Regions from separate parts of the Homo sapiens genome. Here region 1 is linked to region 2. The links come from fine-mapping of genetic effects on plasma protein levels. Region 2 holds a variant in brackets. A gene starts in the other region. All regions are shown on their reverse strands. Region 1 holds the start of DPEP1 (dipeptidase 1). Region 2 holds the start of PGAP4 (post-GPI attachment to proteins GalNAc transferase 4).

The links. PIP is the posterior inclusion probability: the model's chance that the variant is causal. The UK Biobank Pharma Proteomics Project read protein levels with antibody pairs (Olink). The fine-mapping took linkage between variants from a reference panel, not from the people measured, so its PIPs are less certain.
Region 1: DPEP1 starts here. The variant in region 2 is fine-mapped to the plasma level of the DPEP1 protein (UK Biobank, PIP 0.91).

Annotation. Positions count from the first base shown.
Region 1 is chr16:89,612,067-89,614,971 of GRCh38, reverse strand. DPEP1 (dipeptidase 1) reads right to left here and starts at 1,330. Exons shown (of 11, transcript NM_001389466.1): 1 at 1,253-1,330. RefSeq lists an enhancer at 1-166 and a silencer at 1,572-1,730.
Region 2 is chr9:101,485,438-101,488,342 of GRCh38, reverse strand. It overlaps PGAP4 (post-GPI attachment to proteins GalNAc transferase 4), which reads left to right and starts at 1,170. Exons shown (of 2, transcript NM_032342.3): 1 at 1,170-1,394. The variant A/G (reference allele first, on the strand shown) is at 1,555.

The DNA of each region.
Region 1 (2,905 bases), not on the chromosome of region 2:
ATAGCTTGGCTGTGTAAGAGCCATTGGCCGAAGTAGGTTCTGCCCTTCGCTAGCCCAGCCGCAGCTCCAGACTCCAACTTCCGCCTGTGCCCAAGGCTTTCTCTCTAGCATGTCCTGTGATAACCCTGAAGCTCCCCGCACCCTACCCGGGGAGAAGATTTTTCTTTTATTTTTTTGGATACGGAGTCTCGCTCTGTCACTCAGGCTGGAGTGCAGTGGCACGATCTCAGCTCACCGCAACCTCCGCCTCCCGGGTTCACGCCATTCTCCTGCTTCAGCCTCCCGAGTAGCTGGGACTACAGGCGCCCGCCACCACGCCCGGCTAATTTTTTGTATTTTTTATTAGAGACGGGGTTTCACCGTGTTAGCCAGGATGGTCTCGATCTCCTGACCTCATGATCTGCCCACCTCGGCCTCCCACAGTGTGGGGATTACAGGCGTGAGCCACCGCGCCCGGCCACAGCTTTGATTTTCATTCAGCAAATCCTTTCCACCTGGAAGGAAATTGTGGGGCCGGACAACAGGCCCTGCTCTTAGCTGGGCGGGAAGGCAGATGACTGCGCAGAGAATTCCAGAACAGAGAGTAAGTCCGGGGACTCGGCGCTCCTCACACAGCCTCTGAGAACTCTTCCTGGAGGAAGGGGTACGTGAGCTGAGTCCCAAGGGTGCCTAGGACCGCACTGGGCGCCACAAGGAAGGAACAGCCGGCACAGTGGACAAGCGGGGTTGTGGGGCCTCTGGAGGGCCTGGCGGGTCCAGACCTCATCCTAGGGACCACGGGGAGGGCCAGTGGGAGGACAGCGGCGGGTCTGAGAGCAGCTCTCCCACCTCCTTGAGTCCCAGGAAGCCGCCGCGTCCCCTGCCCCACACACCTGGCCCCAGTTTCCTAGAATCCCAGGAAGCAGCCGCGTCCCCTGCCCCACACACCTGGCCCCAGTTTCCTAGAATCCCAGGAAGCAGCCGCGTCCCCTGCCCCACACACCTGGTGCCAGCCTCCTAGAATCCCAGGAAGCTGCCTCGTCCCCTGCCCCACACACCTGGTCCCAGCCTCCTAGAATCCCAGGAAGCCGCCCCGTCCCCTGCCGCACACACCTGGCCTCAGCCTCCTAGAATCCCAGGAAGCCGCCGCGTCCCCTGCCCCGCACGCCTGGTCCCAGCTTCCACCCACAGTGGTGCCCTGGGGTCCCCGGGCCTGCACCACCCCAGGTGGGCACCCCAGTACCCTGGCGCACCGACTCCCCAGCCCACTCACCCTGGCCTCTGCGATGCAGACTTGCTCCCTGGCAGGGCCCGGCCTAGGCAGCTCCCACGCCAGGCTCACAGCTGGGCTGGCCCTACCCGGCCACCTGCTGCCCCTCCCAGGCCCCTCCTCAGGAAGGTGAAACTGCCCCATTTCCTGCAGGAACCCTGTGTTCTCTGAAAGTAGAAAGAGGAGGGAAATGGAGGAGGGGAGGGGAAGGTTGGAGAGAAAGGGCCAGGGGTCGGAAGGAAGGGCTGCAGGAGGGAGAGAGGAGGAGGGAGAGAGGAGGAGGGAACTTTGCTCCAGGAGATGGCTCTGCGTCCTGACCTCCCCCAAGGCTAGAAACTTCTCCAGCAGCTTCCTCATTTCCTGAGAGTGCCCTGAGATGTCCTGGCAGTGTTTTTCCCTCATGTGTGGATGTGCCACCTCCCAGCCAGGGGGGTGCGTGCACAGCTGTGCTGTCCAGCTCTGTGATGTCAGATCTTAGAGAATGCTACACATCAGTACACATAAGCCATCTGTGTCCTTTTTCTCATGCATTTTCGTTGTGAAAATACAACATGTATACCAACAAGACATATAGGTGTTGGGAGGGAAACTGAGGCAGGGCTTGCATGATGTCCTTTGGAATGTGTCTAGACTTGCTGGCTCCTTCCTTCTAGCCCTCCTAGGCCCCTATTCCCATTATCTCAAGTAGCAGAACATGCTCCATATAAATGCTAAACCGGCACAGCTGTAATCATGTGCTTAATGCAACGTGGTCTTTTGACCTCCATATTCTCACCATCTGTTTCTTTGTTGCATTACCAATAAATACCGTGGGCTCCCAGAGCTCGGGCTTTTGCAGCCTCCACAATAGCGATGGCCCCCTGGTGTGCCACCTTTCTCTCTCTGTGTTTTTCTGAATCCTTTGACTCCGCCGGACTTTGTCACCCCCACGACCTGGGGTTGGGTCTGATCACCCCAACATATAGGTACTGTACCTTTACACAGAAACTACACAGGTGTTCGTAGCAGGACAATTTAGTATAGCCAAAATGTGGGAAGAGTGCAGATGCCCAACACGGGGACAGATAAATGTGTCTCTTCACGCAGTGGAGTATTACTCAGCCATGAAGAAGAGTGACGTGCTGACACGTGCTATAACATGAAGAACCTCAGAAACATTTCGCTAAGTGGCAGAAGCCAGATAGTCGGGTGTGGTGGTGCGCACCTGTGGTCTCTGCTGTGAGGCTGAGGCAGGAGGAGCGCCTGAGCCTGGGAGACTGAGGTTACAGTGAGCTGCGATCACGCCATTGCACTTCAGCCTGGGCCGCAGAGTGGGAGCCTGTCTCAGAAAAGAAAGAAAGAAGCTAGACTCAAAAGACCACATGTCGTGTGATTCCACTTATATGAAATGTCCAGAATAAGTGACTCCATAGACACAGAAGGTGGATTCATGGTTGTTGAGGCTGTGAAGGAAAGTGGGGAGTGGGTGCTAATGGGAATGGGTTTCTATTTGGGGCAATGACTTTTTTTTTTTTTTTTTTGAGACAGAGTCTTGCTCTGTCGCCCAGGCTGGAGTGCAGTGGCGCGATCTCAGCTCGCTGCAACCTCCACCTCCTGGCTTCACGCCATTCTCCTGCCTCAGCCTCCCGAGTAGCTGGGACTACAGGCGCCCGCCAC
Region 2 (2,905 bases):
TTTTTCTCCCAGGAAATGAAACTACCTTCCCAAGCTCCCTTTCTGTGCTATATCCAGCTCTCATACTTTCCAGCCTCAGATATAGGTTTTCCAGCATTCCTAATGACAAATTCCTTGAGTGAAGGATCCACACCTCATTCTTACTTCATTGTCATCTATAGTGATGGCAGTATGTCAGAACCATTCTTCAGTAAATGCTGGCTGAAAGAGTAGATGATGAATGGGGGCTCAGGTGGGTGTTTGTAAGGTTCTAAAGGAAGTTAATATCTAGTATCAATTTTACTTACACAAGAAGAAATCATATGAGCATTTACTGGCTTTAATGCTTTATCTTGTGACCACTGAACAGACCTTTTAGAGCAGGTGTTGGCAAATCAGGCAGTAAATATTTTAGGTTTTGTGGGTCATAAGGTCTCTGTCACAACTATCCAACTCTGCTGTTCTTTCATGGTAGCAGCCATAGACAATATGTAAATGATGACTATGTTGCAGTAAAACTTTGTTTACGATCATCAAATTTTGAATTCATATAATTTTCGTAGCCCTGAAATATTCTTCCATTTTTAACCATGAAATATTGCAAAAAACATTCTTAGCTTGTGGGCTGTACAAGAACAGGCAGCAAACTGTAGTTGCTAACCTGTGGCCTAGACAGGCAAACCTAGGATTAGAAGCACTGAGTAAGGCCGTACAATTGTGTGCTGAAAACCCATTCAGAAGGGAAAGTCCAAGGTGGAATGTAGGAGGCTGTTACTTTTCTTTTGACCCCCACATTTTTCCTCCCTCGGATCATTCCGTATCTTTTTCCTATTTGCTTTGCCGGGATTGTTCTCAATCAATGTGCATACTTTCTCATACCTCAGGCGTTATGTCTCTCGTGGCCGTTTGTGTTTAAATTGAGGGTTTGGGGAAGACTGAAAAACATTCAAGACCCAAAGTAACAGCTTTCTCATGAAGCGTTTACACGCATTGAGAGATATCGTTCCATTGGTGTGAATAAGTCTCTATGTACACACCTGATGAAATATAATGCTGGCTTCTAGTCCCCTCACAAAAGAAACAGGCTTCCTGTTTGCGTGACTTGGGGGCGACTCCTGCTTTTCCCTGGCTGCCCATCAGTTGGCGCCTTTTGCCGTCCTTTTTCCCCAAGCCGCTTTGGGGGCCGCGGTCTCTCCGCAGCTCGCGGGTCACATGGCCCGCCTGAGCAAGGGGAGCCCTGCGCCTGAGCTGCGAGGCGGGAGGAGGTGAGGCTCCGGCGCACACCCAAACCGCGCTGCGCCCGCTCCTTCCGGGCCCCGGAGATGGCGCCTCCACCGGGATGAGCTAGCCAGCCTGGGCAATACCAGAGGCGGCCCTCGGCGCGCGCAGGGGACCGAGCTGGTCGCCCCAACCGGGTAGGTTTCTGTTGCGCACGATCTGCCCAGCCCTTCTGGCGCGGTGGTCGGAGCCCTGGACACTAGAGCGAGGGGACAAGGATTAGGGGTGGCCACAGCTGGCACAAGCAGGGCAGCTGGGGGTTGGGGAGAGTCATCGCAGAGGGCCTGTGCCCCGGGC[A/G]GTGCGCCTCGGGCAGGCGGGTTGCCTAGCGGCCCTGCCCGCAGCTCCGACCGCTTCCTGCCGGAGGATTGCGAGGACCCCGCAGGGGTCCCCAGGGCAGCAGGGGCCCGCATCAGTGCGGGGATGGTTGAGTGTCTCGGGGGCGCCTCCCTGGCCCTTGCCTGCGCCAGCTGCGCTGACAGGTCAATAGAAGGACGCGAGCGGGGCGCGTGCCAGTCTGGGTAAGACCCTCGCCGAGCCTAGCAGGGCCGAAGCGCCAAGGGGCCTGGCGCCTAATGGCCGCCCGCAAGCAGGGGACCCTCGCGGCGCGTCCACACCTTAGGTTCGCCGGGCGCGCCGAGAGCGCGGCAGCAGTGTTGGGTTTCTGCGGGCGACCTCGCAGCCAAGGGCTGGGGGAGGGCGACTGGGCAGAGGAAGGCGTCCCTCCCAGGACCAGGAAAAACCAGCAGAAGGGAAGGAGCGCAGCGATGGAGACGGTCAGCTCGGCCTACGGGTGGGAAACTGAGGCTCAAGCGTGGCAGGGACTGCCCAAGGTCAGCGACAGACACTAGATCCAGGGCCCTGGACATCGTCCCCCATTCTTTTTCCAAGAGGGAGGGTTAATTAGATCCACCTGGGTGTGTCTCGCCCTCTTTCTGGCCCTTGGCTCCGGCGTCGCTAGTGTCGCACTGCGCTCGCGGTGTCTTGGGGCGTGAGCTCCTGCAGGGTCGTTGTGACCCGCATCCTCTGCTCGGCCCAGGCTCTCTCCGGGGGACCGCAGGGCGGCTCCAATGATGATCTCACCATGCGGACCATTAGCAACACATGCGGGTGTGTGTGCGCGTGCATGTGTGTGTTTCTCCTTCTATAGGGGAAATAGCTTTTTTTTTTAGGGGTGAATTTCTAGAATGCACTGCACTAGGTACTTTATGAGGTGAGAAGAGAAAATCAACATTATTAGAATTATTAGAATGTTGTAAGGATACACATATTAGAAAACATCCAGTAAACAAAAATCCAAAGGAGAAGCAAAATAAAAATAACTTAAAACTTCAACTTCTAGATGGTTTAGATTTTCTGCATATCTTAAAATTTTCTCTATGTATACACATTTGAAGTTTTAAATCAAAAGCGTGGACCAAAAAATGGTATCTTGTCTTAATTTGCATGTCTTTGATTACCCATGGGAATTAACACTTTTTCCTCTGTGTAGTAGCCTTTTGCATTTCTGTAGGTGAGTTGATTGTTAATTCTTCTGCCCATTTTTCAGTTGGAGTATCTTTCTCCTCCTGACTTTTAAACACTTTATGTGTATTACACATTGAAGTAGTAATTCTTTGTCACGTGTTGCACTATAGCGAGTATTTTCTGT